Linked DNA regions of Homo sapiens: region 1 is linked to region 2. A link means that fine-mapping ties the variant in region 2 to the expression of a gene that starts in the linked region. Tissue or cell type: cerebellar hemisphere. Region 2 holds a variant in brackets; the other region holds the start of a gene. All regions are shown on one strand. Distances are from middle to middle.

Region 1 (6,106 bases), 250 kb after region 2:
GATGATGTCATACCTTTTCTAAACAGCCTTTATGGCTTCCATTGCTAATAAATTAAGTCTGATGTCCTTAGCCTTAATTATTTGTCCTAATGTTTTAATATCCATTTTTATCTTTCCAGTCTTTATTTTCTTAAACAAATTCTATTGATTTATTTTATTTTCCGAAAAGTAATTTTTGAGTTTCCAGGCAAATGCCTTGTCCCAGTCATTACATTACAAAACAAGCTTTAATGCTTGTTTTCCTACCTCTGCTTACATTAATTGTAACTTGTTTTAGTCAGGAGAGATTAGATACTACTAGTCTAGTAACAAAAAAATCCCCAAATCTCAGTGGTGTAGAAATAAAAGCTATTTTATCCTTCCATGCTACATGTCCATCTAGGGACAAATAAGACTCCAATGTTCTCTTCTTTCAACAACCCATGCTGATAGAGTGCGCACAAATTTATATTTGTTCTTCAATATTCTGTTTGGAAATGGCAATATTCTTTTCCATTCATGTTTCATACTAAGATGCCAAGACTGGGGAGAAGTGCATCCCTCCTACAGGGAGAGCAGCAAAAATCTGCAAAACACACACACCAATGTAATTTATTACATGATCATTTTCAATCTCTTTCAAATCTCAATGATTTCATTAATTTGATCTTCTCCACTCCACCTTCAGATGCTCTTTTTTCTTCAACTTTTGCCGTTTGTACTAATAATATTGCACATCTTACAATGCGCTAGGAGGGGTCAAAACATTTATTTTTTAAATGACAGATAGTAAACATTTTAGGATTCATATTGTAAGTCTCTGTGGCTACTACTTGACTCTGCCATTGTAATGCGAAAGCGGTCATGGACAATACATAAAGAAATCGGCACCACTGGGTTTCAATAAGTCTTTATTTACAAAAGCAGGTGGCTGGTCTTCTGTTGTAATTTGTAGACCCCTTAGCTAGAGCAATGACTGTCCAACCTGAATGTGCATTGGAAGCATCTGGAGGGATATTAAAACATAGATCGCAGTGTCCCATTCTCTTAAAGTTTCTGATTTGATAGGCTTGGGGAAGGGCTTGAGAACTTGTCTTTTCAACAAGTTCCAGGTGATGTTTTTGCTATTGGTCTGGGGACCACACATTGAGAACTCTCGACCTGTAGTACAAAGACAATGTTCTGTAGTCAATGACCTATTATTTGTGATCAAAAAAGGAATTTAAATAAATGAAAAATATACTATACAATTGAGGGAAAAGCAATGTTTATGATTCATTTTTTCATCAGCATATTCTTTTCTTCACAAAATCCAAGTGACCAAACTTAGCCAGAGACTGCCCTGAATGAAATATTTATTGGCTACATAAATGAGTTACAATAAAGTTAGCATTCACCTTGTTATAGTGACACAGCATACAGTGTGTAAATATTACATTTTTCCGTGCCTCCCTTCACGTGATAGACAGGTCACGAAATTGTTTTGTTTGTAAAGTCTCCCCAAGCCATTTCAATTTGTCACGATACACAAAGCTTGGCTACACCACCTACATCAACACATTTGTATTCAGTGAAACAAAAAGATTTCAGACAGTCCCAATAATTTTATTCTTTTTCAACACTAGCATTGAAAAGACATTGTTATTTGTGTACAGTCCTCCTGTAGGGAGACATATTTTTAAAACTGTATTGAGACTCTGTACTCTTGAGATTTTTTATAGAACAAAATTAAATGATTATCTGAAATATTGTGGCATTCTTGATGTCTGAATAATAAAATGACTTAGAGTCTTAGAAAATACACGATTCTTGGTGAATATATTTAAGCAAATGTTTATTCAATAGTTAGCACTTTAATAGTGAAACACAAAGAAAGATAATCATGGTTAAAGAATGCAAAGTTGTTTTGTGGCTTTTGGAGGAATAGGTTTTCAACAATAACACTTTTCATTGTAATATTTTATTGCCATTATAATATTCTATAAAGTTTTAGGTAATTATTAATAAATTCTCTCATATAAAGAGAAATTAACATTAATTTTTAAAATCTTACAATATTTAAACATGACAAAATTAAAACAGACCAGACTAATGTATATAGTCTTAGCAATCTTGAGTTCTTCATAGACTCTGAACCAAGTTAAATCAGCCTAGAAACAAGTAAGTGAATTAGGAGAAATTGCTTGAGCATGGTTATTGTCACCAATAAGCATCTGATTCTCGTTTAGACAATTAAACATTGAGACAGCTTCCAGGTAAACGTAATTAATTGTCTTGATTCACAAAAAAGACTCAAGCGACTTAGTGGAGGAAAGACTAATAGAACCCAAGATTTTTTCCTCCCAGGTGACAGTTCTCTGATATGCAATAGATCTCAAGCATTTAAAAAGCAAAGCTTCGGGTGCTAACCCAGGTGCTATCACTTTCTCAGCGCCTAATCTTCACCCGCTGCTAGGCTCGTTTAATGAGTCTTCTGAGAGCTAAGGAGTCCTCGGATTCATTCAAAGCATTCTACAATGAACGCTAGGGGGGAAAAAGAACAAACAAAATACATTTCAAATATAGGATTCAATTACTTTTCACTACTCAATGATGTGTCAAAGGCACGCTGTGTTTTGTTTTGAGGGCGGGGAGATGACAGGAGGGAATCCTGGGCCCCCATTGGCTCGCCGCTCGCCGCTGCAGTTGAGCTCCAGCCGCTCCGAGAGCATTATTGATCTGAAGGGTAAATGTGGAGGGAGCCACAGAGAGGGGTCCAGGCTTTTCTGAGAAGAGAGGCAGCCTCTTCCAGGAAGAAAGTGGTGTCTACTGGCTGCCCGGCCTGGAGAACCTTCTTTGAATGAAAACGGACAAAATGCAAAGCAGTGTGTTGGCACAGTGATTTGGAAAGGGGAAACAGAAGAGAAGGGTCTCACCTTCCGCGCAAGGCTGAGCTGTTGGCACCCTGCTGCGGCCGTCGGTGCTGCTGCTCCTGCAGCTGCCTTTTCTGCCATCAGGTAAGGCTTCCGTTTTTGATTGGGATTGCACCGCGTGTGTGTGATCGCTTCAGGGTGCATGCACAGAAATTCATACATGATTAATAAAGTGATGCCTAGCGTAGTGAGAAGCTGAACGAAGCTGCACACAGATCTGGCAGCTGAATTAGGAGCTTGTGCGTGGTTTTGCTTTGGGAAACTTCGGTAAGTTCTAAACAAGTCTCTGGTCCTCAGACCGTGAGAGGTTACGTGAAAAGAGGAAGGAAAGAAATGTTTTAACCTCAAATGCATCTTAGCATGGCTAAATTTTCAAATGAAAATAAGTAGGTGTGCTAGATGTCCAACTAGTTATTTTATAAATGGCTTTATAGATATCTGATTTTTACAACAAAATAATGAATGCTTTATTTTCAAAGAGCTTCCAGAGATGCCGACCCCCCTCACTCATTTCTCCACTGACGCTGAAATTTATGAACTTCATTCTTCATTTGAAAAATACCACTGTAAAACCATTTAAATGTTTTAATGGCCTGCCTCTCATGGTACAGCCATTTGAGTTTCCTACCACAAAACTAATCTGGGACAAATGAAAGAGATAGATTACCAGATCTGCTGTGGGTTATATAATATGCATTTCCAAATTATTTTAAGGTTATTGATCATTTGGTGATACATTTAACAAGGAGGAAATATGTGTGATATAGGACATAATGGCAAATCATTTTTCAAAAAAGACCTTCAGCATTTTATAAGTATTTTCTTATGTTTTTAACATCATTATTTGTTTTTTGCTACATCGGGACCACAGTGTATTTAGAACCTCTGTACTTCAGAGTACCTGATATCTCTTATACACATTTCTCTGTACTCTCTGGAGAGGGAACTGACATACTTCTGGCTGATTCTGCGACCATTTCATGATTCTCAATTTCTCATCGAGTATTTTGAAGCTCATTCACAAACTGCTCAGCTAGAAAATTACCTTACATACTGAGGGGGAAAAATTCAAATAGAGTAGATTCTGAAAATGTGTTTACAGTTTTAAATTACACTATACATGACCAAAACAGGAAAAATGCAACCATGCCAAGCAGGTATTAGTTTGCTTGATCTTCACTGTATACCTGAGCAGTTGTAAGGTTATAAAATAATATCCAGACACACAGCTGTCAAGAAATACTGAACCTCATCATTCAGTGGCAGCGCCTCATCATTAAATTATCCTAGACAATTTAAAATATCATCTTATATATTTTTATTATTATGTCAACAGGAGAATTCAACCGAGTAAGTTTTTATTATAAATAATTCCATGATTCTAGCAGAATGTCTCTTCAGAATTGAAAGGCAGATGGTTACTTTGCCCAAACCATGAACAGGTGATTGACGAATTGTTTTGGAGTGGTTGAGTGGATAGCCACATGCAAAACAGGGGCTTCCCTTTAACTAATTTAACTGATACATCGAGTTATTCAGCAACAATATTTAGAAACTGTCTCTCCACCTTCTATGAAAACTACTGAAGTAAAAAGAGGTTTTCAATTAAGTTGAAAATCGAATTCTAGAACATAACATATTTTTCTCTTAATAACTCTTACTTCAGAGACCAGTTTCCAAGATTAGCCCTGGCATTGTTAATCCCCTTCCCCATTAAAAAAATGTTTTTGATTTTCTGTGTTGTTCAGTTAATCTCTGCTTGCTGTGTTCTTAACTTCTACTGTGGTGTGCCATTTCCAAGCAGTAGGGGGAAGTTTTTAAGCCACGAATGCTTTTTTATTTTCTACTCAAACTCACTCCTCTCACTGATCTGCTTAGTGATGTGATCATTTTAGATAATTCCTACAAAAAAGAGAAAGCTGCATTATTGTTGGGGGGAGGGGGAGGGAGTGTGAGTCATTTCTTCCACACACGGAATGATATGTATTAAGTTCTTACTACAGTACAAACAGTGTTTAGTTTATGGGGAAGAAAATTTCTCTTAATGCCTCATGTGACGTACTTACACCTCATATAACTCTGTCCTTTGAGGATGGAGCATAAAACTGATCTCCTTAAATTGAGCATCTTTTGAACCTGATATTTTGGCAGAGCCTATTTCATGTAACAGTCTGGGATATAGGTTGAAATCAATCCTTTATCATTATGAGATTAATAAGGATATATGTCACTCTTGCCTCTTAAAATGCATTGTGATGAACATCAAATCAGTCTTGCCATGATAGGAGGATTCATAGAGTGATGGCTGTCTTTAAAAGTGAGCCATGTTTTCATGTAAAAATATAAAATCTAAGGGCTTGGGTAATAAAATGACCTACTAGCAGACTCTGTTGTAAATTTCTTCCTACTTCCAAAGGGAAAGAGTGATTACAGATGTCTCATTTAAAGTAAGATATTATCCTGTTCATCTTCTAGCAAATTATTGCTGTTTTAAAAGTAATTATGTCAGAAATTATCATGTGATCATTACATCAATAGAGAACATTTTGCTTATAATCTAGTACCAATTGATATTCCTATTTGTGTTAAATTATAGGTGGAAAATATTTATCCTTCCTGTTTAACAAATATTGCATTTTATTTTTATGAATAGGCTTAAATAGTACCCAAAAATACATTTAATTGTTAAATAAATGAAAATGTATTATTTTTACTGGGAGCTTTTTATTTTGCTAATACTGAATAACTGAACAATTTAAACTCAGAGCTTTTAAAAGCCTTTTAACTTTCAGCTTTAAGACAGTTGCAGCTTTTTCCTGACTTACTATGCTAGGAGGGTAATATATCATAACCAAACTTTAAAAGGAAAATGTGTGTGTGTGAATGTGTACTATGCTGCCTGTATTGAATATCAATAGTAGTTACTCAAAGTTGTTTTTAAGCATCTCATCATAAGATGATTAATAAAATGGAGTAAATAACTTTTTTACAACATATTAAGTGAGAGTTATGACTGTTCTAAAATTACAGATGAACTCTACATAATGTTATTCTACGTTTTGTGAGATTATAGATAAATGCTTTGAATTCAATTATTCAATTACTCAATTATTAATTATCACTTCATTTAGTAAGCACCTGTTAAATTATTGAAAACAAGGCATATGTTTACCAGTCTTATAAATTTAGCTGTATTCAGATTTGTGTCTATCATG
Region 2 (6,106 bases):
AGCCCCAGGGCAGGATGCTGTCTTGTCAGGGCTTCGTTCTCAAAATGGTACCATGTTCCAACTGCTTGGGTCTCAGAAGATGCGCGGGACCCATCATGATCTCCCTCCAAAGCAATGATGTTTTACGGACTCCAGGTAGCTCCCAGACTGGTCTCAGGGCTCACAGGAATCAAAAGCTTCTCCTGTGGCTAGGATTGTGGGAATATGGACGGCTGGGGATCTCTCACTTACCTTTTCTCCACATGGCAAGCCTCTTCAGGGTCCCAGGTGATCCCAGGTAGGCAGGGTGCCTCACTTCCCTCTCCTTCTATTCCTCAGGTTTTTCCTGGGAATATCATTATATTATTGATATCATTATAGAATATCATTATATCTTGTAGCTGCTGTTTTCAAAGTGTGATTATCTATTTGCTATTTTTGTTCTTCTCTGTGGAGGAGGCTAATGTCAGATGACTCTAGTCAGTCATCATCCTGAAGCCCCCTCTCTCACTGACTTTTTAACAGCAACAATATTAGGATTTATTATTACTACCATTGTAAAATAAAAATTTTGAAATTTACAGAGGATAACTTTCCCAGTTGGCACAATTAGTAAGTGGTAGAATCAGGATGCAAATTGATATCTACATAATATAAGATGATTGCGTACATATTTTAATTCGAGAGAAAATTTTTATTATTTATAGAATCCTGAATTAACTGAACCCGGTTACTTTGTGTTTGCTACCTAAGGATCCAGTTGTCTATCTGTAAATCTATTAATCTGTCTAGCTACCTATCATCTATAAATCTATCATTACTGGAGGTTAGGTTCCCTGCAAGCTGATTCTGAGACTTAGATTAGCAGGCAGAGTATTTATTACTGTACACTTTTAGGATCAAATCCCTGGAAGAAAAAGGAAAGAAGCAGGGCTGATTAGAGAAAGACGTTTGGGTGAAAAGAAGGTTCAATGAAAAACTAGCTGTACATGGGGAGCTCTCAAGTTTCAGTGGATCTTCCTAAGTGTCCAAGTATGGTCAAAAAATTATATTTTTATTGTCCTTCATAGCCAGTCCCAGGGTGGAGGCTTCCAGGGGAGCATATGTGACCTTTTTTTTAACCAAGTTAATTTGGAAGAGTGCTGACAGCTGAGGGCTCTCTGCCAACAATACTCCTATCAGCCATTGGAAATAGACCCTCAGCCTGAAGGAGGAACTGAGCTGTGAATCATAACATCCACCATACTCACATACATAAAGGTAACTCTATACAATTACACTTTATAGAATTACGCACATATAACACACAACATATATTTTAGGGGTAGATGCACCAAAAACCAGGTTAAAGCACATTCTTATGAAATAAGCCTAAAGCTTTGCATTTTATTCATAATATAGAATATACACTTCATTGAGAAAATAATAGTAGAGAAAAAACACAAAAGCATTTCTTATCTTAGGGGTCAATGAGATATGTCTATTTATTAACAATTTTAAGGCAGAAGTGAAGAATTTAGACTTGTCACTACATCTGTCCAGTAAAGCTAAATGCATTCTGTGGAACTGAGAAAAACTGAATTCAGCTTCAGGGGCTAAGAAAAGTTTATCTAAATGGGTAGATTATACATTAAAACTTCACATATGGTTAATTATATATTGGCCTTGTTTTTCTACAGAAACCTGACTAAAACAGATTTTGGTGCTGAGAGTGGTTGTACAGATTTTTAAATTGTCTCTGTGGTTTCTGGATTTGGCTGTCTAATATAATTGGCTTTTAAGATGCCAATAACTATTTGTAGTAGTGAAGGAAGCATTCTGGCAATAGAGATACTAGAGATACACAAAATATCTACATTGAATACTCTTTTTTTTTTTTTTACTGGATCTCACTTTATTGCCCAGGCTAGAGTACAGTGGTGTGATCTCAGTTCACTGCAAGCTCCATCTCCTGGGTTCAAGAGACCCTCCTTCCTCAGCTTCCTGAATAGCTGGGACTACAGGCACACATCACCATACTCGGCTATTTTTGTTTGTTTGTTTGTTTGTTTGTTTTCAGGAGAGATGGGGTTTTGTCATGTTGCCTGGACTGGTACATTGGATATTCTTAACCAGCGCTAATAAGATACAAGGAACCAAATGACCGTGTTTATGACATTGTTGAATATTTTTGGAAAACTAATAAATCTAACAAGATTCGTTGGTTGCTCCTAATGTTGCCTGAATAAGTGGTTAAAAAAAAAAGGGAGGACCTTGGGGAATTAAATTTCCTGCTTAAGTGCCATATTAATGACCTGAAGGCATCTTTGTGTGCCCTGAAAGACATTCCAATATCCTGTAGCAAAGGGGCTGAGATTGTTGAAAATCAAACACTTAATCTCATCTTATGACTGGCTGAATTAACAAGTTGAACTCCTACCTTTAGAGTAGACATCTTACACAACAACTGCTGTTAAAGTTAGGGCATTAATAGGGAAGGTATGAGATTTTAAAATTTGGAATGTGGATATGTGGAAAGACCCTGAACTTTGGCATATAGAACCCTTAAATTCTGATGACTTCTTTGACAGTGGAAGAAGCCTCTCCACCAAAGTTGCCTCCTCACCCCCAGTGCAAACAACTTTCTGGCCTGTGGCAACAGCGTCTTCACCAGTGTCTGAAAGAATTAGCTCGCATTGCCTGAGGAAACTATAATGATGTTTCCTGAGGCAGTTGCCATGTAAGTAAATGTTAGTTCTCCTCAGGACCCACCCCATCCTCCTCGGAAATCTAAGCAAAATGTCTGGAAATAGACATTGAGGGTGTGAGAAAATGGTGGAAGGAAAATAAAGTTGAATCAGGCTGAATTATTGATATGTGCTCACAAAGCAAAGATTCTGCGTTTATTTATTTATATTTATTTTATTAATTTTTTAAAAATTTTGTTTCAGAGGGTACATGTACAGATTTGCTATGTGGCTAAATTGTGTGACTCTGAGGTTTGGGGTACAAATGATACCATCACCCAGATAGTGAACATAGTACCCAATAGGTAGATTTTCAGCCTTTGCCCCTTCCCAACGTCCCCTCTCTAGAAGTCCCCAGCGTCTATTTTTCCCATTTTTATTTCCAT[G/A]TGTACTCAGTGGTTAGTTCTCACTCATAAGTGAGAACATGAGTATTTGGTTTTCTGTTCTTACATTAGTTTGCGTAGGATATTGACCTCCAGATGCATCCATGTTGCTTCAAAGAACATGATTTCATTCTTTTTTATGGTTGTATAGTATTCCATGGTGTATCAAAACCACAGTGAGATACTATCTCACACCAGTCGGAATGACTATTATCAAAAAGTCAAAAAGAAAAAAAAACAGATGTTTGAGATATTGTGGAGAAAAGAGAATGGTTATACACTCTTGGTGGAATTTTAAATTAATTCAGCCACAGTGGAAAGAAGTTTGGAGATTTCTCAAATAACTTAAAACAGAACTACCATTTTACTCAGCAATCATTCTACTAAAAGGATACATGCACTAGTATGATCATCACAGCACTATTCACAATAGCAGAGACTCTGCATTTAATGTTGCAATTTTGAGCTTCAGGAAAGCTCTGACAATTTATTTGGTTACTTGAAATATAAACCATATATGGCCCACAGTGAGTAAATCAGAAATGCTGGATCTGCCTTGGTTTGATGTACAGGAATGAATTTGAAAGTTAGAGATATTTATCTACACTGGGAAGGGCCAAAAGACCTTTCACCACAACTGTGAGGAATATATTTGTGAGGTGAGGCTGAAAGTATCCTTGAAAGCTCTGTGATAGCTCTTCTCTGTAGAGCAGAACTTACAGTGAAAAATTTGGTTACTGAATTGGGAAACCTAAATACAGTGGTAGTAATTGGATCCTTGGGGGGCAGGGGCCACGTAGGGCAATGTGTACATGGTGACTACACTGAATAGGAGATCAAAGTAGCAATCAGAATAGTCTGATTTACGCAGACTTGTGACATTGGCTACTTGATGGTGGTGTTTCTAGAAGTGAAATAGACAGAAATCTTACTAAATCTTACTTAATCTTTGTAAGCAGAAAAGTTTTAGGTCAAGTGAACAAAAGCTTAGCCTATATTTGCACCCACAAAAGACTAAAGAAAAGAAACTAGAGAGAGAGAGAGAGAGAGAATCATGGACTCCAAATTAAATCCTAGACTTGAGTCAGTTTACACACCCTGAACCCCTTGAATGAAGAAGTCAGGTTTTCTCGAAGAAGGACCTGATACACTACTGAAAATGCATATTGTTACTCACTCTTTCAGCCTTTCTCAAAGAGACCTAAAACCCTTTACGAGGATAACCATAAATTTGGAAAAAGGCAATAATCAGAACTTTTGGGAACTACTGACACTGTCTCTGAACTGACACTAATTCCAGGAGAACCAAAACACCATTGTGTTCCACCAGTCAGAGTAGGACTTTCTGGCTGCTAGACGACTAATAGAATTTGAGCTTAGGTCCATCTCAGAGTGGGCTCAATAACTTTGGTTATTTCCCCAGGTGGGAAATGCGGAGTTGGAATACACAGATTCAGCAGCTGGCAGTCACCACATTGGTTCCTTGACCTATTGGATGAGGGCTCTTATGGTGAGAAAAGCCAGGTGAAAACTACTAGAATTATTATTACCTAGGAAACTAGGTTCTCCTGAAGGCTGGACAGTCATTGCTCTGTATCCACAGGGAATTACTTCCAGGATTCCCTATGGATATCAGAATCAGAGGATGTTCAAGTCTCTTACGTAAAATGGTGTAGTAATTGCATATAACCTAGAACATCCTCTCAGATATTCTGAATCATCTGCAGGTTCCTTATAAAATCTAATACAATGTCAATGTTATATAAGTAGTTGTCATACTGTATCATTTTTACTTAATATTATTTGTTATTGTATTTTTACTTAAAAAATAATTTTGATTGGCAGCTGGTTGAAATCTGATGATGCAGAACTTGCAGATATGGAGGGCAAACTGTAATTGCTCTAAATCATCATCTGAAATGTGGTACTATTTCTCTCATAACCAGGATTCTTGAGTCAAGAAATCAAAAGGTAAAAATGGGAATGGCATCACTCATTATTACCTATAGCAATCCACTAGCAAAATTTTATTTCCTGTTTCTACAACTTTAAGTTCTTCAGTCCTAGGTGTCTTAGTTCTAGAGGGAGGAATGTTTCCATCAAAACACACAACAATGGTTCCATTAAACTGAAAGTTATGACCATCACCCGGCCACTTTGGTTCCTCATGCATCTGAGTCAACAGGCATATAAGGGAGTCACAGTGCTGGCTGGAGTTATTGATCCTGACCACCGTGGGGAAATTAGACTACTACTCCACAAGGGAAGCAAGGAAGAGTATTCTGAAACATAGGAAATCTTTGAGGATGGCTCTTAATGTCCTGCTCATGTCTTGTGATTAAGTCAGAAAAATTCCAAGAACCTATTCCAGGAAGAAGGACTACTAATAGCCCAGACTCTTCAAGAATGGTAGTTTGGCGGTAGTTTACCACCAGGTAAAGAAACATAACCAGCTGAGGTAAAGAAAATATAGAGTGGATAGTGGAAGAGAGGTCTAAATATCAGTTATGACCACATGACCTGTTACAGAAATGAAGACTGTAATTGTCATGAATATTTCATCTTTCTTTTGTTATAAGTATATTTGTGTATGAAAATATATACAAGATAGTTTTGCTGTCTTCACTCTCTTATTCCCCTACATGTAACATATGATGTATTAACTTTACATCAGCATTATGGATATCATTGGCTTGTTCCCAATTTTTATGGTTACTTTTCTGTGTCAACTTGACTGAGCCTTGGACAGCCCAGATAACTGGCTATACATTATTCTGGTTTTGTGTGTGACGGTGTTTCTGGATGAGTTTATCATTTGAGTTGATAGACTGAGCAAAGCAGCTTGTAGGCACACCTCATCCAATCCATTGAAAGCCTGAAAAGAACAAAAATACTGAGTAAAGAAGAATTTGGAGTCTCTCACTGTCTTCAAAGTGGAACAGCCCCCTTTTCCTGCCTTTGCACTAGGACTCAGACTGAAACTTACACCATCAGCTGTCTTGGTTTTTGGGCCTTCAG

The links. PIP is the estimated chance that this variant, and not a neighbour inherited with it, causes the effect. A credible set is the group of variants that fine-mapping cannot tell apart.
Region 1: CDH12 starts here. The variant in region 2 is the best candidate, but not a certain one, in a credible set for the expression of CDH12 in cerebellar hemisphere (GTEx, PIP 0.80).

What each region holds. Positions count from the first base shown.
Region 1 is chr5:22,849,927-22,856,032 of GRCh38, reverse strand. It overlaps CDH12 (cadherin 12), which reads left to right and starts at 2,689. Exons shown (of 15, transcript NM_004061.5): 1 at 2,689-2,975.
Region 2 is chr5:23,098,798-23,104,903 of GRCh38, reverse strand. No RefSeq gene overlaps it. Among named protein-coding and RNA genes, the nearest start is that of CDH12, 250 kb to the right of the region's middle. The variant G/A (reference allele first, on the strand shown) is at 3,092.